Linked DNA regions of Homo sapiens: all the other regions are reported to be linked to region 1. The links are microRNA targets in miRTarBase. Many come from high-throughput screens and were not tested one by one. Region 1 holds a microRNA gene; each other region holds the end of a gene's coding sequence.

What was found. The annotated mature microRNA hsa-miR-548ap-3p reads AAAAACCACAAUUACUUUU and lies in region 1 at 1,382-1,400, opposite strand. An mRNA with a match to its seed (bases 2 to 7 or 8) in the 3' UTR can be bound and repressed. Matches are read on the target gene's strand: a 7mer-m8 pairs with bases 2 to 8, a 7mer-A1 pairs with bases 2 to 7 and ends in A, and an 8mer does both.
Region 2: the mRNA of TRA2B is a reported target of hsa-miR-548ap-3p. Seed matches in the 3' UTR shown: 8mer at 1,064-1,071.
Region 3: the mRNA of LANCL3 is a reported target of hsa-miR-548ap-3p. Seed matches in the 3' UTR shown: 7mer-m8 at 2,137-2,143.
Region 4: miRTarBase lists SLC30A3 as a target of hsa-miR-548ap-3p. Seed matches in the 3' UTR shown: 7mer-m8 at 847-853.
Region 5: the mRNA of TBC1D22B is a reported target of hsa-miR-548ap-3p. Seed matches in the 3' UTR shown: 8mer at 1,111-1,118.
Region 6: miRTarBase lists HMX3 as a target of hsa-miR-548ap-3p. Seed matches in the 3' UTR shown: 7mer-m8 at 2,432-2,438 and 8mer at 2,306-2,313.
Region 7: the mRNA of ANGEL2 is a reported target of hsa-miR-548ap-3p. Seed matches in the 3' UTR shown: 7mer-A1 at 2,356-2,362, 8mer at 1,325-1,332 and 7mer-m8 at 1,317-1,323.

What each region holds. Positions count from the first base shown.
Region 1 is chr4:173,266,489-173,269,604 of GRCh38, reverse strand. It overlaps MIR548T (microRNA 548t), which reads right to left and starts at 1,445; the gene lies at 1,372-1,445. All of the region lies in intron 2 of GALNT7 (polypeptide N-acetylgalactosaminyltransferase 7), which reads right to left. It overlaps LOC124900812 (a long non-coding RNA gene), which reads left to right. Exons shown (of 3, transcript XR_007058367.1): 2 at 1-3,116.
Region 2 is chr3:185,914,838-185,917,953 of GRCh38, forward strand. It overlaps TRA2B (transformer 2 beta homolog), which reads right to left. Exons shown (of 9, transcript NM_004593.3): 9 at 1-2,888. The coding sequence ends at 2,878. Among named protein-coding and RNA genes, the nearest start is that of TRA2B, 22 kb to the right of the region's middle.
Region 3 is chrX:37,675,366-37,678,481 of GRCh38, reverse strand. It overlaps LANCL3 (LanC like family member 3), which reads right to left. Exons shown (of 5, transcript NM_001170331.2): 5 at 1-2,828. The coding sequence ends at 2,669. Among named protein-coding and RNA genes, the nearest start is that of XK, 8.9 kb to the left of the region's middle.
Region 4 is chr2:27,252,541-27,255,656 of GRCh38, reverse strand. It overlaps SLC30A3 (solute carrier family 30 member 3), which reads left to right. Exons shown (of 8, transcript NM_003459.5): 8 at 197-1,973. The coding sequence ends at 345. Among named protein-coding and RNA genes, the nearest start is that of SLC30A3, 8.9 kb to the left of the region's middle.
Region 5 is chr6:37,331,000-37,333,999 of GRCh38, reverse strand. TBC1D22B (TBC1 domain family member 22B) reads right to left here. Exons shown (of 13, transcript NM_017772.4): 13 at 1,030-2,956. The coding sequence ends at 2,828. LOC105375040 (a long non-coding RNA gene) reads left to right here. Exons shown (of 4, transcript XR_007059566.1): 4 at 852-930. Among named protein-coding and RNA genes, the nearest start is that of RNF8, 21 kb to the left of the region's middle.
Region 6 is chr10:123,137,279-123,140,394 of GRCh38, reverse strand. It overlaps HMX3 (H6 family homeobox 3), which reads right to left. Exons shown (of 2, transcript NM_001105574.2): 2 at 972-3,116. The coding sequence ends at 2,664. Among named protein-coding and RNA genes, the nearest start is that of HMX3, 2.9 kb to the right of the region's middle. RefSeq lists a silencer at 819-868 and enhancers at 303-1,072, 2,113-3,077.
Region 7 is chr1:212,992,441-212,995,440 of GRCh38, forward strand. ANGEL2 (angel homolog 2) reads right to left here. Exons shown (of 9, transcript NM_144567.5): 9 at 1-2,752. The coding sequence ends at 2,601. Among named protein-coding and RNA genes, the nearest start is that of ANGEL2, 22 kb to the right of the region's middle.

The DNA.
Region 1 (3,116 bases):
GAGGATATGATACTATCACATTTACGTGGTCATAAGGACCTTTGAAATTCAGATTAGGTCTGCTTATCAGCAGAGACTATTTCAGCACTAAATCTAATAAATATTCCAATCAGTGCAAAAGACCTCCTGTGTTCCATAGCTCATGTCACTAACTGCAGCAGCTTCTGTTGGGTACACCTTGGCATGATTCCAGCTGCCTTCCCAAGCCCATTTTAGCAGTTAGGTATCTATAAAAGGAGGTGGAAGATAAAGTGGGGAGGGGTGGGAAGGAGCAAGGAAAGATGAATTATGGGCGGAACATATAATAATAACTCGGCCACTTTATTTCTATTCCTTAAATGGAAAAACAAAATTTGATGCTTTTTGGTCTTCACATTTCTAAAAGCCATTATCAGATTTCATTTTTGAAATAAATTAACAGACAAAAAATATTTTGTTTTGTTCTGTGCCTCTGTTGTCTGAGTGCCCCTATAATAAGACATGCTTATCTGACAAACATCAGAGGAGCCATGCCCCTCTGAGAAACATCTTCACTGTTACTGAGATTTGGGTTTATTATAATGGGGTACTGGGCATTTTGCCCACTAACTATATAGTAAATATTTCTGTGATTAACCTGAGCCCCATACTAAATATACAAAAATTCAGTGGCTCCTTATTATTTGTGGATTCTACGTCCACAAATGTGGATTGCAATTGGAGATGCCTGATGGGCATGCACACGAGGATGTTCTGTTTCTTGTTTCTGCTCATAGAGTAAACAAGTGTCCGGGTGCGGTGGCTCACGCCTGTAATCCCAGCACTTTGGGAGGCCAAGAAGGGCGGATCAAGAGGTCAGGAGATTGAGACCATCCTGGCTAACACGGTGAAACCCCATCTCTACTAAAAATACAAAAAAAAAAAAAAATTAGCTGGGCGTGGTGGTGGACGCCTGTAGTCCCAGCTACTCGGGAGGCTGAGGCAGGAGAATGGCGTGAACCTGGGAGGCAGAGCTTGCTGTGAGCCAAGATGGCGCCACGCCTGGGCTACAGAGCGAGACTCCATCTCAAAAAAAAAAAAAAAAAAAAAAAAAAACGAGAGAGAAAACAAGTGTCCTATTTGCAGTTTGTTTGGTGCCACAGATTTTCTCATTTTTGTGCTTTTAGTTGGTAATTTTGCTGTTTAAAACAGCCTCCCGAGAATAATGTCAGTGTGCTACCTGGTATCCTAAGCACAAAGATGCTGTGCTGTGTCCTGTGCAGAAAATCCACGTGAGACAAGCTTTGTTTGGGTGCGAGTTACAGTGCTATTGGCCCTGAGTTCAATGTAAACCCATCAACGTTATAGGTAAAATAAAGTGTCTTTAAATAGATACATGCCTAAAACAAGGTTAGGTTGGTGCAAAAGTAATTGTGGTTTTTGTCATTAAAAAATTGCAAAAACCACGATCACTTTTGCACCACCCTAACATTTTTCTTCACTTCTCTTGACGCAAATTATAGATTCAATCACCCAGCACTTACAAGCAAGCATTTCTTTATCTTAGGTTGACCTTAAGAACTTCTTTGTATTTACTAACTTCCTTTAGGACTCCTCCTCTTTTGTAGTAAGACGGCAGGATGAAATACAATGAAGAGGGTACCATATTTTAAAGATAAGGCTGAATACCACACACCTGGCATGATGAGAGGCCTATACAGAAAAAAGAGCTTCTGAAGCTTCTCTATGCCACACAAGGGATGAAGGTGGCCTCCAACAACTGTGACCTCCAACCGGTGGAGCTCATGTGTGATATGCCTTTTATGTCCTTTAGCACATTTGTTACCCACAATAACTTTACAAGCCAAGTATTATTATCCACAATTGCTAGAAGAGGAAACCAAAGCTCCCTAAATGCTCAATATCATGCTCATCACTCTTTCAGCTCTGTATGGGATTCCCAAAGTGAACCTCATGTGTATTTATGAACTTGGCACTCTCGGATACCATGCAGCACCCCTCATTTTCTGTGAGCTCTGCTTGCTGAGGTGAAGACTCTGCTGCAAAGGGGCCCCTGGTCCTGTGAAGCTGGTCCCCCTGCTGTGCCTATTCTAAGGAATGGCCATTGCTGATGACATTTGCTGGTCTGTGCCCAGGCATGGTTTCCTGGCGCTGCAGAAGCCACTGGCTGGTAATCTGCCTATGGGTGTCCACAAACCCTCAAGTACAGAAATTTGCCATCCTTCAGTTTGACAGGCATTTTAATGGAATGCTCTTTCAGTGTATCTCCCTAGCATTCAGGTACGCGTTTCAGGGGCCAGGCTGGAGGGTGATCTAAGTGACAGGCATGGTACAATGGTAAATTTTGCCCATACCCTCAACACTGATCCTCTACTTCTAGGCCATACTAAGGTGGCTTTTAAAAATTAATATATGATAATAGTACCTATTTATGGGATACATGTGATATATGGATACATGCATATAATGGGTAATGATCAAAGCAGGGTATTTAGGATATGCACCACCTCAAACATTTATCATTTCTTTGTGTTGGGAACATCCCAAATATTCTTTTCTAGCCCTTTTGAAATACACAATACATTGTTGTTAACTATGGTCACCTGCTGTCCTATTGACCATTAGAACTTATTCCTTCCAGCTAACTGTATGTTTATAGCCATTAGCCAACCCCTCTTTATCCCACATCCCAGCCCTCCACACACACACACACACACACACACACACACACACACACACACACACACACACACACACCCTTCCCAGCCTCAGGTAGCCGTCATTATACTCTCTACCTCCATGAGATCAAATTTTTTAGCTTCCACGTGAGTGAGAACATGCAATACTTGTCTTTCGGTGCCTGGCTTATTTTTAACATAATGTCCCCCATGCTCATCCATGTTGCCGAAAATGGCAGGATTTTATTATTTTTATATCTGTTCTCTTATTAATAGTATAACTTCTTACAACTTAGATTTAAGCAGAGGCCCTTCTACATATAATTGGAATTTTATATGTCCACATTTAAAAAGAGTTACCTTGGGATTGATAACATACTTCTTTTGCTCCTAAGTAAAAATTTTTATTACTATAAAATGTTTCACAAATGTATCAAAAATACTACAATTAAAACTACT
Region 2 (3,116 bases), not on the chromosome of region 1:
AATCTTTTTATTTCTTCTCGGTGAAACTTCTAATTCTCAATTTCTCCTCCTGGGCCTTGCAGAATTGGAATCCTAGTCAATGGTGTAAGAGGGCTAAGAGCTATTAGTTTTATCTTAAGGCATATATTCCTTATGTAGGGGCAACAATGTAAACATTGCAGACCTTGAGCATTCTCTAACATGTAGTTAGATTTCCATAAGGAAATGTGCAAGCTAGATCCCTCTCAAGCGCACTTCACAATAGGATTCCTGCTATGAAAATCTGCTGTTGCTGATCTGACAGGCGGCGGAGCTCAGGCAATCCATGGCCAGGAGATCGGAAACCCCTGCTCCCAGGTCTACAAATCTTTTGACACAGCCTTATTTCCACTTGCTGGGACCCTGTTGATTTCCTGAGAAGTTTCACAAAAGCCTAGTATAAAACTATTTAACTTAGCAATCTTCCAAATGAACTTTACATTTGGTTTTAGTAGTCTCAGCCCTACAGCTATAAGAAATGGATTGTTTGTATTGGCATATAAAAGCCTCCAAGTCCCTTTGCCTTGAGGCAGTAACTTTAAGACTCAAATTTATCCTTTCCCATGGCTTTTGTCTGATTCAGCTGCCCATGGCAGCAGTTACCTAGGGGTTACCTACGGGTAACTGCTGCCTCCCTTTCATGAAACTGGCGACTAGCATTACAGCACATCAAAAGACTACCACTTTGTCTCACTACTTCTCAGTCTATCTCAACTTGGTAAAATTCCAAATTTTCCTCAGTCTTTTGCCTGTTAACACTCTTTGTAGCCATGTCAAATGGCTAAAATTCTTTCAAATCTAAAAGCCAGAAAACAACTCAAACTAGCCTAAAAAAGGAAACTTTCAATCAGCAGGATAAAGGATGGCTACACAACTAAAGGGCTAAAACTCAGGCTTTAGGATAGAAACCGAGGGTTATGTTCGAGATTATCAGGAGTGTGAACTCGCAAGCCATCAGTTAACTGATGGGGAGAGGTTTGGTTGGGGAGAAAATGGTGGAGAATGTAGTTACTTCAGGAAAGGATGCCTGTATATACTACCACGATAAAACCAGGTTTCTCAGCCTTTAATGTATCCATCCATAACACAACCCCCTCTGGGACCACACCCTAAAACTCAACTTTATATATAAATACTACAAATTCTTGTTTCAAAACTCATTGAGAACAATTTGAAATAACCCATCAGGCATATACTAAGTTGTTTCCACATGCTTATCAGAAACAAACCTAAGGGTAGTTCTCTAAGCATATTAATTTACCACAAGTTGGCAAACACTGAAAACACCCTGGACAGTAAGTTTTACAAATTAAGACCTGCCAATACTGCCTATGCTCCATTACTGGTATTTTCCATCACCCAGGTACCCAGATTTGAGACATCATGATCAAGAGAACTGTGGACTAAGATCACCTAGGTTCAATTCAGATCGTGGCATTGCCACTTAAACAGCTATTTGAACTAAGGTAAGTTACTCTACATCATTTCATTGCTAAAGATTATATGTAAAGTTCTTCCCAAAGTACCTGAAACATACTAATACCTAGATGCGATAAAGGTTAGCAAGGCAACAAAATAACCCACCTGTAGCAACATCCCTACAATTGGTCATGAAAATTACTTAAATGCAAAATAATAAGAACATGTATTAAAGTACCCGCAGTCTAGTTATTTACTGTAACTCCATCCCCAAATGGAGATCACTCTAATACCTAGTTATGCACTCTGAATTTTCCAGGAATACAGAAATTCATCCCCCCCTCAACCCAGCCCAAAATAGCAAAGATACACCTCAGCCCAAGGAACACACTGCCCTAACGATTAAACTACAGAAGAACTCTAATTATAATAGAACAAGAACACTTCTTTGTGAACAGCTGCACCAACATTTTTCTTTTCATTTGCGTTTATTTAAACACAGTTCTCAAAACATTTGAGTGAAATTGGGCCTCCTTTGGTAAGCAAAGGACCTGAAAATAATATTTAAAAAATGAACAGGCAAAGTCTTCAGTTCATCCATGACAGGTATAGTGTTCCCTTATCATGTACTTTGAAGCACCCGGTTTTTTCATATAGTCTAAAAGCTAGAAGAACAAGAGTGTATTTGTGGTGGAATGTATTGTCACTTGCTGATAACTAGTTGAAATACCATTATCCCCTTGTAACACCTTTAAGAAACAGCCTTTTAAGGCATACACTGTGTAACTCTTCGTATTTCCTGCTATACATATTACAGATTACATAAAAGCCGACAAATCCACATTGATATAAGCATTAAGCACTGGCTGTATTTTAAGATTTTTAGTTCTAATACTAGCAGTACAGAGTTACAGAGCATAATTTTAAACACTTAGTTGCAGGTATATAAGTATGGTATGTTTCATGGACTGGAGGAAAACGGGCATTTGTCTTTAAATTTACTACTGACAATCTGAATAGTTCTGCTAAGCATTGATATGTTAGAAAGAAAAGTAAAAATCAAACTGTTTATTGTTGCTTTTTGCCATTTGGTAGCATTTTACACAGGCTTCGATCTTCAGAATACCCTGGATTCAGTAGAAAAACCTTTTAAATGAAGTTTTGTACAATAGAAACTTCTCAGCAGTCAAAATTTAGACTGTAAAAAAATACATGCAAAACATACTTTTCTGAAAACACTTAACTTGGAACAAAGCACCAAACTACACAAATGCAGAATGAAAACAGCATTTCAACTCCACCAAAAGTAGTCATCGTAAAAGGTGTAAAAGTCACCTAACTTCACTAGGCACTGTTCACTTTTTAAACAAGAGACAATAAAAAATATTGCCCACAAACAATATCCCAGCTCTAGGGCAGGTTTCAGAAAGTCTTCATGCTTTAATAGCGACCTGGGAAGAAAAGAATGAACATGCTTTAATATTAAGTGAACTAATTATCAAGTATACTTTAATGCCGAGAATTTCAGAATATTCTGCCATTAAGAAATTCCTATGTGCCAGAACCCCACCACCCCCAAATAGAGAAAGACTTCCATGTAAGTATTACACCAGAAATGAGATAGCAATCTTAAATAACAGAAATTGCTGGGAAGTATATAACTCAATCTGAGAACTAAA
Region 3 (3,116 bases), not on the chromosome of region 1:
CTATTACCTTCAGGGTTTATAATTGCTCATGCTGTATATAGTAAATAATATTAAAGTTATACTAGTGGTGGTGAAAATGCCCCTGTAGCCTTTAAGAGACAACAGCCTTAAGTACTACATTAAAAATGCTACCACAGAGAAGGGGGGCAAGTTGGATAATTAAATAAGAAGTAACATGCCACACTTTCCTACAGCAAAATGTAAGAATCGTTTTCCCCTTCTTGGAAAAATAATATAGAAGAGGACCTTCCAAAATCTATAATTCTTTCAGGAAAATGAAAAGTTTCATCAACATGTTTAAGGGCTAAACAAGCCTATTGTTGTTTCTAATTTACCGAAATGTCATTTCATAAAGACAATACTCAAACATGGTCTTTGCTTAGATTTGACACACAAATCAAAATGGTTAGCACATCATCATCAGACCTATCAGAACTTAAAAGGGCAGATAGGCCTGAAAGTGGTCTTGTTTTTCTGAAGTTACTAGAAATGGAACTGATATGATAATGAACTAGAGTATCAGTTCTGAGTGCTTTAGGTTTCAGGTCTCAAGGATGAATTGTGAAAGGAACAGCAAATGGAAACAGAAGGTAGCTTTGAGGGAAAGTTTATTTTGTTCACTATTGTATCCCCAGATTCTAGTCTAGAATACTGAATAAATAAACTTAGAAAGTGAAACCCTGGGTTTGAATCCTGGTTTTGTCCTTTTCTAGCTGTAAGACTTTGGAGCATTTACCAAACACATCTTGAGGGGTTCTTGGACGATAAAAACTGCATGTGTTCCATAAAGCTCTGTATATAGGATGGTTATTATATTCAGCCTATATGAAAGAACTTCTGGACCCAATGTGGGGAGTCATCTGAAAGCTGCTATTTATGTGGTATCACCCCAAACTGAGCATTTTCACTGATGAACAACTGAGGCCAATTTGATATGGTTGTATCTGAGGATGTAAAAATGAAACAGGAAGCTGAAAAGATGTATGCATTTCAAAATCATTTTGTCCTACTTTATTGCAATGAGTGCAAACACACACAGTCATAAAATACACAAAGATAGTTGTTACCTTTCTTTGGTCAGATTCTTTGAGAATGTTATGAATGCTAGAGATCCTTGTCCCCTCAAAATGAGCACACACACACACAAACAAACTGGTCCATACACATACACACACCAACATACTTGTAGGTTTGCTTTTTAGGCAACAGAGCATTCCCTAACTCGTTCCAAAGTCTATGATTCAAGTTAAGAATTACTGAAATAAAGAATAAGTATTTGGATTTACATGGGAATAGATATGGAATACACACCATACACACACACACACACACACACACACACATAATATATCCAAATATTTAATGACTATTTAAATAAGTCTTATACAGTACACAATTTCCTACTCAATCTGATATATGCAATTGCCACTGACAAAATTCTAGGAAAAGGATCAACTTATGCTCTGCATAATGAAGTGACAGATGCTCCTACAGTGTTCTGCAAACCACTATTTACTTGAAGCAGTTTCACAACTTCTATGTGTTTACAGCAGGGTTGAATTTGATATGACAACTTGGCTCAATGAGTATTACAGCCAATTTCTAGTGGACCCTGTATCTTGGAAGGTAAGGTAACCAACCACAGAATTCACTCATCTCTTCATTTAATAGTATAAAATGGAGCAAAATTATTTCCACAATCACTGGTGACTTCCTCAGCCTGTCTGCCTGTCCCAAACAAAGGCAGAAATGACACGTCTTTGTAGTGGTTCCCCTGATCTTTGAAATTAGTGATATTTACCAAGAGCATATTTTATAGTTCAGCTAATAGCTCCATCAAGATTATGTACATAAAGGCATTTTTAAAATTACTAACAATAGACAATACACAGTTCACACTTCCTATGGAGAAAAACACTTTACAGCAACACTTGCTATAGTATAAGTTTACTAGCTTATAAATTTTGCTATTCTAATTGAGCTTTGAGGAAAAAAAAGGAACCAGGAAAAGAGATGTTCTAGGGCCTAAGGAAACTTCAAATTTTAGTATCTGAACTACGCTATGATATGATTTCTTTAAATTGCCCAGGGTAATGAAAAAAATAGAGATTCATATGCAAATATCTTTGCTCAGTAAAAACCATAAATTTCAATAAGTATAAGCACAGGACAACCAAGAGTTTATTTTTATACTTCAGCAACCTGACAATCCATTCCTCATAGCAGTTTTCAGCTGGGCAATTATTTTAATTTTTTATTGTCTTTATTTCTGAATTTAAGGGTAGAGGGCACACACAAATGGTCAAATTCTCATTCAGATTGCAAAGGTATTAGTGTATTTTTTGTCATAGTCTACACTTGCAGTTTGGTTTTCTATGTCATAACTGAAAAACAGATCATTTCTCTTTCCCCTTTTCCTATGATCCCTTGTTTCACATCTATTCCCTGACACATTAAATCTCTGCAGTTTTAAGATGAATTGTGGTATCTTTATTTTGCAGATCCTTTCTCAAATCTGGCATCATGTTGCCTTCACCTGCCTGATTCCTTCCTTCTGATGGCAATGTTAAGGCTCATGGTTGCGATACCATTGAATGTGGCTTATGTGGAAACTGCCTCGGCTTGGCTCAGGGGATCTCTGCAGGGCCACAGTGGAAGATAGAGCCTTCTAAACAAAGACGCTGAAGAGTGGGAATTCAGCCTGATTGGGCTGCAGCAGGTCAATCAGAAAGCACACTGTCCCAGAGAAGCCTTCATACAAGCTGTATATACTTTCAAGGACCCGAGAACCGGCCTTGAATTCCTCGGTAAATAAGAATTGAGCAAACCTAAGAGAAGAAGAAAATATGAACAGTTTAACATGAGTGTTTCCATATTATGGACCTTGGGTTGCTTCTTCCTCTTCTATTAAAGTTTTAGCATAATTTTCTTTCCAGAATTATATAATTAAGTATTTTAAGAAACACATTTTCTCTGTTAAAGAAGAAGATCCATTATATAACTGTGTATGTTTCACAACAAATTATGCTGGCAAGCAAATCCAACTATTCTTAGAGTTTGCAAAGCAAAGCAGTTTGGAATTTTCAAGGATCTCATTCTTTCTGTCATCCAGTAAT
Region 4 (3,116 bases), not on the chromosome of region 1:
AGCATGGTTGATTGGGGTGAGTCTCTCCAACATTTGATTTGACACTTTTATGCTGTTCATACAATACAGAAAGAAAAGCAGGCTTCCATTCACGCCTGGCTTTAATGCTGTGCAGCCCCTTTCCCTGTCCTTATCTCAGTCCCTGCCTGTTCTTTCTCCCCCGGGATGGATGCCGCCTCTTATCACTCTCCCACAGACTCCACCGCTGACCCTGAAGCCGTCCTGGCTGAAGCCTCATCCCGGCTCTACTCCCGGTTTGGATTCTCCAGCTGCACCCTGCAGGTCGAGCAGTATCAGCCGGAGATGGCCCAGTGCCTGCGCTGCCAGGAACCCCCCCAAGCCTGAGCCATGGCCCTGCCCTCACCCCACTGCCAGGCCGAGGCTCAGCCCCAGACTCTCAGCATCTGCTGCCCTGATCACAGAGACGGGACCGAGCCAGGTCCATACCCCTTCCTCTCTCCCTCCTACCACCTGCCAGTTTCCCCAGCCTCAGCCCCAGCCCCAGCCCCAGTGGGCAAGACCAAAGTGTGGCGGGGAGTGGGGTGGGAGTCAGGGGAATAGATGTGACTAGTTCAGGGGCGGGGACTCCCAGGCCTCAGTGTGGCAGGGTGTGTTGAAGGCCTGTGGTGCCATCTCCCCATGGTTCATGTGGAGCCACGAACATCCTTTCCCTGCAGTCCATTTGTCTGTGTGGCAGGCTGGCTGGCTGGGGGCATCTGCCTGTCTATGTGCTGTTGGTGTGCCTATGCCTGGGGGAGGTCAGTAGGGGCCCCCTCCCCACATGGCCCTCGCTCTGTCTATGCAGGGGCCCCAAAGCCCGCACTTTGTCCGTGTGTCTTAGCCCTGTGGTTTTGTCTGTGTGTGTGTGTGTGTGTGTGTGTGTGTGTGTGTGTGTGTTCTTGGTGCTGTGGCCTGTGTGTCTCTGTGCCTATGTGGCTGTGCTATGGTTTCTATGAGTCTGCTCCATCCATGTGTCTGTTTGGGGGTCTATCTCTCCATCCCTCTGTTGGTGCTGTGCCCTTGGCTATCCCTGAAAGAGGGAGGACTCCGCTGCAGCTCCACCAATAAACTTGTGTCTCACTGCATCTTTCAGCCTGTGTGCTGACTCCTCAGGAGGGGGAAGTCAAATAGGTCACTTGAGAACAACAGAATCCCTCCTGTCCCTTCCCAGCCTCTGGAGTGACCTCCCACAGACCTCCTGTCCCTTCCCAGCCCCTCCACCCTCAGATGGAGGGTAAAAGCCACCAGTCTCTTTACTCCCCTTCCCCTGGCTCACAGCATGCCTGGGTCCTTGGCTCAGGGACAGTCCCATGTGCCCTGGGCTTGGTTGCAGGAGAATGCTGGAAGGTAAGGAGCCAAGGAATCCCTGGGAGTCAGTCGTTCTCAGAGGTCCCTGCATGCCAGTGGGCCTCAGGCTGGCTGGAGGGAGGCTGGGTCCCTTTGAGGGAGAATGGCTAGACCATAGCACTGATGTGGGCTTGGTTCTCAGGCCATCTAAGGTGTCCAGCGGTAGGGACCCCTCAACCCTGATAGCAGCCAACCCTGAGTCCAGGTTTAGGCTGTGAACACCAAGGACCTCTTTTACACCTATTCCCCCTTTGTCTTAAGAACTGCATATTTTGACACATTAAGTCTTAAAATCAGGCTCATTAAGGGATTGTTGATTTTCTCTTTAAAAAAAATCAAACTCAAGCTGGACATAGTGGCCTGTGCCTGTAATCTCAGCCCTTTGGAGGCTGAGGCAGGAGGATTGTTTGAGCCCAGGAGTTCAAGACCAGCCTGGGCAACCTAGGGAAACCCCTGTCTCTACAAATAATTTAAAAATTAGCTGGGTGTGGTGGTGCATACCTGTAGTCCCAGCTATTCAGGAGGCTGAGGCAGGAGGATTGCCTGAGCCCAGGAGGTCAAGGCAGCAGTCAGCCATGATCATGCCACTGCACTTCAGCCTGGGCAACAGAGCAAGACCTTGTCTCAAAAAAAAAAAAAAATCAAACTCACTGGGTTTGGTGGCTCATGTCTGTCATCCCAGCACTTTGAGAGGCTGAGGCAGGAGGATCGCTTGAGGCCAGGAGTTCAAGACCAGCCTGGTCAACATAGTGACACCCTGTCTCTACAAAAAAAATTAAAAATAAAAATAAATTAGCTACGTGTGGTGGTGTATGTCTGTGGTTCCAGCTACTCAGGAGGCTGAGGTGGGAGGATCACTTGAGCCCAGGAGGTTGAGGCTGCAATGAACTATGATCATGCAACTGCACTCCAGCCTGAGCGACAGAGCAAGACTCCATCAAAAAAAAAAAAAAAGAAAAAAAAAGAAAAATCAGCTAGGCAAGATGGCTCACGCCTGTAATTCCAGCACTTTGGGAGGCTGAGGCAGGCAGATCACTTGACCCCAGGAGTTCAAGATCAGCCTGGGCAACATGGTGAAACCCTGTCTGTACAAGAAATACAAAAATTAGCTGGGCATGGTAGTGTGTACCTGTAGTCCCAGTTACTTGAGAGGCTAAGTGGGGAGAATCACTTGAGCCCAGGTTGTCGAGGCTGCAGTGAGCCATGATTGTGCCACTGCACTCCAGTCTGGGCAACACAGTGAGACTGTGTCTCAAACATGGTCAAACCCTGTCTCTACTAAAAAATACAAAAATTTGGCCGGGCACAGTGGTTCATGCCTGTAATCCCAGCACTTCAGGAGGCCGAGGTGGGTGGATCACCTGAGGTCAGGAGTTCGAGACCAGCCTGACCAACATGGAGAAACCCCGTCTCTACTAAAAATACAAGAATTAGCCAGTGTGGTGGCGCATGCCTGTAATCCCAGCTACTCAGGAGGCTGAGGCGGAAGAATTGCTTGAACCCAGGAGGCAGAGGTTGCGGTGAGCCGAGATTGCATCAGTGCACTCCAGCCTGGGCAACAAGAGTGAAACTCTGTCTCAAAAAAAAAAAAATTAGCTGGGCATGGTGGTGGGCACCTGTAATCCTGGCTACTCGGGAGGTTGAGGCAGGGAGAATCGCTTGAACCCGGAAGGCAGAGGTTGCAGTGAGCTGAGATTGCGCCACTGCACTCCAGCCTGGGCGACAGAGGGAGACTCTGTCTTAAAAAAAAAAAAAAAAATTAGACTCTG
Region 5 (3,000 bases), not on the chromosome of region 1:
TTATTTATTTAGAGACGGAGTCTCGCTCTTGTTGCCCAGGCTGGAGTGCAATAGTGTGAACTCGGCTCACTGCAACCTCCACCTTCCCGGGTTCAAGTGATTCTCCTGCCTCAGCCTTGTGAGTAGCTGGGATTACAGGTGCCCACCACCACGCCTGGCTAATTTTTTTGTATTTTTAGTAGAGACAGGATTTCACTATGTTGGCTCGGCTGGTCTCAAACTCCTGACCTTGTGATCCACCTGCCTCGGCCTCCCAAAGTTCTGGGATTACAGGCATGAGCCACTGCGTCCGCCCTATTTTTGGTTTTTATTACACATAGCTGAATTTAATTTTTATGTGGTTCCTAATGACTGAAACCAAGAAATACTCTCAAATAAATCCTAGGAAGGAATTCTGGGTGGAGAAACCATTCCAACCTGTCCTTTGTAGATGAAATGTAATCAGCTACCTTTCTTGAGATATTTCACAGTAAGGTTACCAAGAAAAAAAAAACAACAGCTGACAACCGAAAAAAGACTTAAAGACAATCCTACATGGCGGCCATCTTAGTTCTTTCTACTCTGGTGGAAACACACTGAACAGGCAAGCCAGGAGGACACCGGGTCTCTGGTTCTGACTCTGATGCTGTCTTCCTTGGCCTTGGCTTGGATTTTCCTCTGCGAATGAGGGGGTTAAACTAGATATCTCCAAGTTTTCATCCAGCACTGAAATTCTAGTCTGTTTTCTACCCTCTATCAGATAACATACTTCTTTTAGATGAATGAAATAATCCATGTAAAGTGCTTCTCAAAGTGGTTGGCAAGTTAACTCTTTTTAGTAGTTTCATTTACCAAGTTACTCATTTTTGTAGTTTCCACAGTACCTTTCATAGATGGATGTCGGGTAAGTGTTTGCTGGTTGATCCTCTGCTGATGCCCTGCTCACCTCACAGAAGGCCTGACCACACACCTACTAGTATCAGCAAGAAAAACTCAAAAAGAGGAGACTCTTTAGGTTCCATGGACACATACAGGAGAAAAACCAGCAGATGGAGGAGGAAATACACCATTTATTTACAATTCTTTTCACTTTATCCACAATTTCCCATACAAACATAAAAACTAAAAAAATAAAACCACCACTTGGGAACACAAGTGTCTTTCTTTAATTAGTCCGGTTGAGGGAGGGTCTCAAGCCCTCTCACTCTATGAAGGAGACCACTGAGGCACACCGAAGGGGAAAAGGAAGAGGGTTGGGAAGAATGCCTGAGAAACAGCTCCAGATGAGAAACCTAACTCACACCGATGTGGTGGGGCCTCACTGGCAAAGAGACTTGAGGGTGTTACCCACCAGGGACACTGCTCGGCTTCCCAGGAGGATGACAGCTGCTGGCCCCCATCCCCCCACCCTCCACTACCAAATACCAAAACTCAAACAGGGGTCACACATCTCATGAGCTGTGTGGGGAGTGAAGGTGACAGTAAGGGATATGGAGTGCTGCTCTCTGAGAAGAGCCCCAAACCCGAGGGACACACAAGAAGCCCCTTTCCTTGGCACTGAGTCTTCAGTCACAGCTTCTGTCCGAATACAATGCTGAACTTGAAAACGTAAAAACAAAAGCCCTCCCCAGATTCCGGGGAAGGTGGGGATAAAAACACATAGAGAGGGCTTGCCCGCCTCTGCAGTCCCTTCCTGGGGAGGCTGCTAGGAGCAAAGGGCAGATGCTCCAGGAAAGTCTGGGGGTTGGGGGGCGGGGTGAAGAAAGGGGCGAGGAGGACTCTGAGACACTGATGCTTGGGATGGCTCCAGCTGCTCAGCTACTCACTTCAGCAGCCTCCCGTTCTACCCCTCACAGCAGGACACCCAGAACCAACCTGGAGGTGCTGAAGCCACCTTCCTGGCAACTTCCTCTGTGCTAGTGACCTAGATTGCTTTCACATGTTGATGCACATTATAAATATAAAATCATATCTGCTACAAAGAGGACATATATTTGTACATCTTTACCCATATACATAATAACACAATTTACACATAATATCTTGGAGTGGGTCATCATGGAAAAGGGGTCTGGAGAGCCCCTTCTGCCTCCCCTGCCCCAATCCCTCTTCAAGGGATGCTTATACACTTGGTCACTGGGGCCCTTCCCAACTAGTTTGATGGGGCTCGTCTGGACACAGAAATTCAGACATGTGACTAAATGCTGATGGGCATGTATACACATTCACACCCACACACACATGCAGACACCTGGTGAGAAAAGGAAAAATAAAATTCCTAGCCCTTGGGTGTAGGCCTCTTTCCAGAGTTACAAGCATCAGTGCCTCCTCCATCTAGAATAATGGTTTTAAAAAGCTACCCCTCACTGGCTCAGACTGGGGCAGAAGGGGAACGGCTAGGAAACCAGGAAGAGGGAAGAGGGGCCAGGAGTCTTTCGAAAATATAAGGCGTTTTTGACCTGTGATCAAATCAAACTATGTTCACAAAAAAAAAAAAGCAACGGTTATCAGTTGGGGCCTGTCCTTGTAGGGACAATGTGAGGTGAGACCCTGAGCCTTCCCCTTCTTTGTCCAGTTTCTTTTAAAGGGGCAGACAACCCTGTACCACCTTTTCTGTCCTCTCCCAGAACTGGGCCCATCCACGCGGCATGGAATACTGACAGTGGTCCAAGTGACACATCCAGAGACATGGAGTGGTGGATGCCAGAAAGTTAAGACCTGGGCGGTGGGTGTGAGCTTTGTACAACAGGAGTGGTTCCTGGCCGGGGTCCACGGCTCGCACAGTGGCCACAGTGATCAGACTGCCATCAGAGATGAAGGCAGTCTGGGTCCCCGGAGGAGACAGCACCTATCGGCGGTAGTGATTTGGGGCATCGGCAAACATGTACTTGAGTCTGTATGCCTCGGCGAGAAGCAGCCCAATTTCTTCGTTGCCCCAGTGTATTGTAGGTAGGTTCTGTAGCAGCATGAGGAGACCCTGGAATGCAAGAAAGGACTTTTATATCATACCAGACCGTAGAC
Region 6 (3,116 bases), not on the chromosome of region 1:
GCAGGCGGCCACACCCGGCCAGCGAGTGTCGCCCAGGCACCTGCTTCTGTCGGGCGGACCCACCCTTCCAGGCGGTTCCGGCGCGCTGTGCCTCCGCAGGCTGCTCACTAAGAGCGCGGCGGCCTGGAACCCAGTAGCGCGCGGGTGTGGTGAGCGCTACGCTTCTCGGCGTCTGCCAGGACAGGGTCGGGGATCTAGAGATGCCGCCCAGGAGGTGTTGGGCGCCAGGGGAAAGAGAAGAGCCTGGCACGGAAGAGACAAGGTCTTCTCTGTTGCAGCTGCAGCAGCTAGGTAGCCTCTGTTCCCTCACACTTAGCACATCAGGACCGCGCCCATGCTCGAGTCGCCCCGGGAATCTCAGCTCTGCAAGACCTGAGGAAGTTCCCCTCTCCTGGTAGTGGGAGCCGCTGTCCCAAGAGCTGGCTGTCCCTGGGGTTGTCCTCTTGTGGCCCAGCCTTTCCTAGCCTGACTTGGCAATCGGCCTACGGCTGCAGCTAAACTCTGAACTCACTCCCTTCTTCCCTCCAACCAGAGCCCACCGAAGTTAACCAGCTGACGAATGCCCAGGGATGCCCTGCCCAAAAGCTCTCGGCTCCCGAAGGAACCCAGGTTTAAGAACAGAACGGGAGGCTGCAGACCAGTGTTCGGAAATACCAGCTGTCTCTGGTATCTCGCCTCGCGCGCTGTCGCTTTGCTCAATTTCGCAAACTAGATAAGCCTAAGTCCACTCCCCTTCCGCCCAGCATTCTTCCCTGCTCGCTGGGCGTTTCAGGCCGCGGAAAGTACAGGGGAGAGAGTGCCTCTGGTCGCGAACAAAGCCGCCTCTGTCTCCACCGCCTCCCGGAATACAGGGTTGTGCGTCCAGGTTGTACTTAGAGAGCGCAGAGGCAGTCAGCGAGCAAGACAGAAAAGAGTTTTGGAGACATTTGCTCTAGGGAAAATCGTCCAAACTTACACACTCTGGCAACACGTAAAGCTTTTCTTTTCTTTTTAATTAATTCAATGTCACGACAACATTAGTGTAACAATATTTTGTGGGTTTTTTTTTTCTCTTTTTCTTAAAAAGGGACTCAACCCAGGCAGAGGTGAGGGAGATGAGGGGAAACAAACTATCACAGAACAACAGGTGTACCGACAGAAAGAAAACAGATTGGGTGACAGAGCCAGGAGCCCTGCGGAGTAGAGGGTGAACTTTACAAGAAATCTGTACATTTATCAAATAAGTTAAAATTCTGCTAAATTGATTGTCCTTCACTTAAAGCGCTCCAGTATGCCTAACTTACTCCTTTGAGCATCACTACCTAAGCTTGTTTCTTTCTTCCCCCCTTTCCCCTGCCTACTTTTTTCTTTCTAAATGAATGACCATGATTATACAGTGAAAAGGTCTGTTTCCCACGGTGGAGGAGGAAACAGCTTTCTCAGGAGATTTTGTACAATATTGCACAGGTCAACGTACAATAATTACTGCAGAACATGAAAAGTAAGAGGAGAGGATAAAAGATATCATATTAAAAATACTGAAATTACTCTCTCAAAACAGGGAACAAAGTAATAATAGTAATATTAATAATAATTTACAAATGAAATTCTCAAAATAAATGCTACTAATAAATAAGACCACTTAGACCAGGCCAGATATGGAGCTGTTTCAAATAGTCAGAGTTCTGATTTTTGGCTGTCTTTTCTCTTTAGACACTTAGAGAATTCTTCCATCACAAAGTAAGACCGATGAAGAGGCTAATTGCAACAGACCTCTCCAGAAGAGAAAAGCGGCCTGAGTCGGGATTCTTATGAGAGGCTGCTCATATTTTGAAAATTAAGGTGGATAACTGATTTGGGGGTTGGGAGGAAGAAACATACCCAGAAATCCAGAAATAAAAGTACTATCATATGAATTCTCTCCCTCTCTGGATTCTGAAAACAGTTCTATAGAAAAGGAATAAACTAGGCCGGGCGCAGTGGCTCACGCCTGTAATCCCAGCACTTTGGGAGGCCGAGGCGGGCGGATCACGAGGTCAGGAGCTCAAGACCAGCCTGGCCAACATGGTGAAACCGCGTCTCTACTAAAAATACAAAAATTAGCCGGACGTGGTGGCACACACCTGCAATCCCAGCTACTCGGGAGGCTGAGACAGGAGAATCACTTGAACCCGGGAGGCGGAGGTCGAAGTGAGCCGAGATCGCGCCACTGCACTCCAGCCTGGGCAATAGATAGAGCAAGATTCCGTCTCGGAAAAAAAAAAAAAAGCAGAAAAGAATAAACTAGAGGGATTTAGGTTTTGCGCTTATTTTCCTTCTATAAAAATAAAACCAAAAAGCCACCGCGCAATGGAAATTTGGAAGGGAGGGCTGCACATTTTACAAAAACTATCGGCCGAAATCTCTGACCCGAAAATTTTGTCTTGTTCCTGCTTTCTCTTAATATAAGCCAAAAACCAAAAGTAAGAGGGGAAGCGCCTCCAATCCATTAGGGATGAATTGCACGAAAATGCATTGCAAATACTTACAAAATGCTACCGACTGGGGGAGGGGAAGCAGAGGCTGCGCGCCCAAGCCCCAGTTCCTGAAGGCCGCTGGACTTCTCGGCGCCCTCGGCCCGGCCCAGTCTCCTCCGGGGTCCGGACAAGGAGGCCGGGCGCTCCCTCCCCCACCCCTCTGGGGCCTCAGACCGGCCGTAGCAGCGGCACGGAAGAGACCACCGGGTGCGAGTAGTAGACGGGGTGCGGGAAGGTGAGCAGCGGCTGGCTGACTGGCACCGGGGCCCCCGCGGCTGCAGCCGCCGCGCCCTCGGCCGCCGAGTTCTCGTGGTAGAGGATGGGCACCCGCACGATGCGCTGCGCCGCGGCATGGCTCAGGTTGGCCGCCTCCAGCTCCGCCGCCAGCTGCCGCTTCCACTTGTTGCGGCGGTTCTGGAACCAGATCTTGACCTGCGTCTCGGTGAGGTGCAGGGACGCGGCCAGGCCGGCTCGCTCCGAGCTGCTCAGATAGCGCTTCATGTCGAAGGTGGACTCGAGCTGGAAGACCTGGCTGCGCGAGAAGACTGTGCGCGTCTTCTTCTTGCGGCACGCCGGCTTCTTCTCTGGACTTTCAGCGCCCTTCTTCCAGTCTTCTGCGCC
Region 7 (3,000 bases), not on the chromosome of region 1:
CTTGAGACTGAGAGATTTGGTTTCAGGCATTAACCAGATTTAATTGTTTTTGGCAGGTAAGTACAGGCTCTGGCAGAGTTACCAACTATTCTGGTCAACAAAAGTAAAGACAAGTGGATAATTATTTTTAGTGGAGCTTTAAAAACCTGTGAGAAGCTCACATTGACTTTTTGGCCTCCAGTCCACAAAATAATACTTCATTTGATAAGCTAAAGTAAAGAGCAATTTTATGGATTAACTCTATCAAAGTGAAGCACATGAAAAATGGGCCTAAAGTCACAATATATTAATCAGGATATAAAAAATTAAATTTTCACAGAGGTTTTCAGGGATGTTTGTTTGTTAACAATGACCTATATGTAATAATGTTATTTGTTAATAAATTCACACAACACAAAGCAGTAATTAACTAATGAATTTTCATTTTTCTTTCCCCAATATTAAAAAGGGATAATTATACTATCATTATAATTTGATAATGTCTATATCTGCTAATTAGGGCACATAATATCCTGCAAACTACTACTATAAAATGTGGGAAATCCTAGAACTATAATTAATACTGTAATTAAAATCCCCCCAAAGGCCAGGCATGGTGGCTCATGCCTGTAATCACAGCACTTTGGGAGCCCGAGGCGGGTGGATCACCCCTGAGGTCAGGAGTTCAAGACCAGCCTGGCCAACATGGCAAAATTCCATCTCTACTAAAAATACAAAAATTAGCTGGGCATGGTGGTGCATGCCTGTAATCCCAGCTACTTGGGAGGCTGAGGAAGGAGAATTGCTTGAACCCAGGAGGCGGAGGTTGCAGTGAGCCGAGTTCGCGCCACTGCACTCCAGCCTGGGCGATAGCGTGAGACACCATCTAAAAAATAAAAAAATAAAAACCCCCCAAAATGAGAAATTAAATATTTAAACATATTCAATTACAATTTTTACTAGACAAATCTTATAATCCACATGCCTTCTCTGAGGTTTTCATCTGTTTGTTTTTTTAAAAATAATTATAGCAAATGCTTTAGTACAAAGACTTAGTCCAAGACTATTATTGTTTTCCAATTTAAGGTGAAGCATTCTATTAATAAAACTCACTGTAAAAACATTTACAATTCAGTGTAAAATTACTACTTAGTAAAAATGCATATAATTCCTTGTTCCTACTGTCTACAAAAAAGGAAATTTCCACTTTTTATGTTTTAAAATTGATTCAAACACTTGTATAGAGGATTTATTAAACCTGCTCATAACCACTTCATAGAAAGTGTCAGCACCATCTCATACTGGTGCATCACGGTAAAAGAAAACATTTTAGAAACAAAACCACTAAAACCAACAGTTTAAATGACTATTTACAGAGCATTAGGTCTCCAAGTTAATATCTCCCCACTAGAGTTTTACAGGCTTCCTCATATTTCTGAGGCTTAACAAAAATAATTTTATAGCTGCCACTTTGTTCCAAAGACAAATTTCCTAATAAAATAAATTTCTATAGAACTGGTTCAGTAAAATAAAATCTCTCCCCTAAACCAGAGATCTTAAAACTGAATTTTTAAAAAATGCTGCCATGTGCAGTGGCTCCCGCCTGTAATCCCAGCACTTTGAGAGCTGAGGTGGGCGGATCACCTGAGGTTGGGAGTTCGAGACCAGCCTAACCAACATGGGGAAACCCTGTCTCTACTGAAAATACAAAATTAGCTGGGAGTGGTGACGCATGCCTGTAATCCCAGCTACTCGAGAGGCTGAGGCAGGAGAATCGCTTGAGCCCGGGAGGCAGGGGTTGCAGTGAGCAAAGATTGCGCCATTGCACCCCCAGCCTGGGCAACAAGAGTGAAACTCCATCTCAAAAAATAAAATAAAATAAAAATAAATAAATAAAAATGCTAGGGAAACAAAGGTATATCCCCAGTCTCTGCCTCTATTAAGCCCACCTCTTGTCTGTTCCAGGGTGAAAGAGTGAGCTTTACACGTTATGCTGGCTTATATTTCCCAAACATTTCCCCAACACGATGCAGGCATATTACATGGCTCAGGACAGTAATAAGATGGATTAAGCATTCTGTACAACTTAAAAAGCATTATCAAACCCCTTCAAAAACAAACTAAACAATGGCTGGTTGGATACCTGTGAATGACCCAAGGCTTTCTAAGATAAACTATTTAGAACTCAATAGAGGGGTCTCCTAATGAAATCAAGCCTTCTGGAAAGGAAACAACTTGTAGTTTGCAAGAACTCAAAGATACTTTGGATCCACTACAGAGCTTGCCAAAATTATGAAATGAAATTTTTTACTAAGCAGACAAAGGAAGATGCATTATATTTAAAAATCACTGTCAATTTTACTAGGATTTAGAATATAAAACCTTTACATCTCTTTTACAATAAAGAGAATTTAGAGCTCACTTGTCACGAAAATATTTTTCATTATTAAAAAAAATTGTTATAAAGTTATTTCTTCTGATATGGAGTTTCAAAGCATCTAACATAACCGCTTCAGAATCTCCACAGTGCAAAAATAAACAACATGCATACACTTAAGAACTTTACATTCTTTGAAAAACAATACAAATTGGAAAGAAAATTAGTATGTGATCAAAGAGAGTCAGAGCTCAAGTCTGAACTTTGCCAATAAAGGCAGATGATCTGAAGAGTTATTTTCGTTTGGAAGTCCATTAACAGTCCATAAGTCTTGTTCTGTAAGAAGTGACAGTCTAGCTAGAAGTTTCAAGCCACCAACCAAAGCAACTTCAGCTCCTACATTAAAGAAGCACACACATATTTAGTAAAATTGTCAACGGGTTATTGTAAATTAATCATACAAGTCTTTTCTCCAAACAAATATAGAACTTGAGGCCCCTCCAGAAGACTAAAAACTATGACACAGTTTTTAGAATATCTAAGCTTTATTGAATTATAACCTAATTATAATTATCAAACACACAGCAGTTTGAGATATTTTTTCTATTTCCAGCTCTGTAAACAATCTTTAGAAGAAAATATAA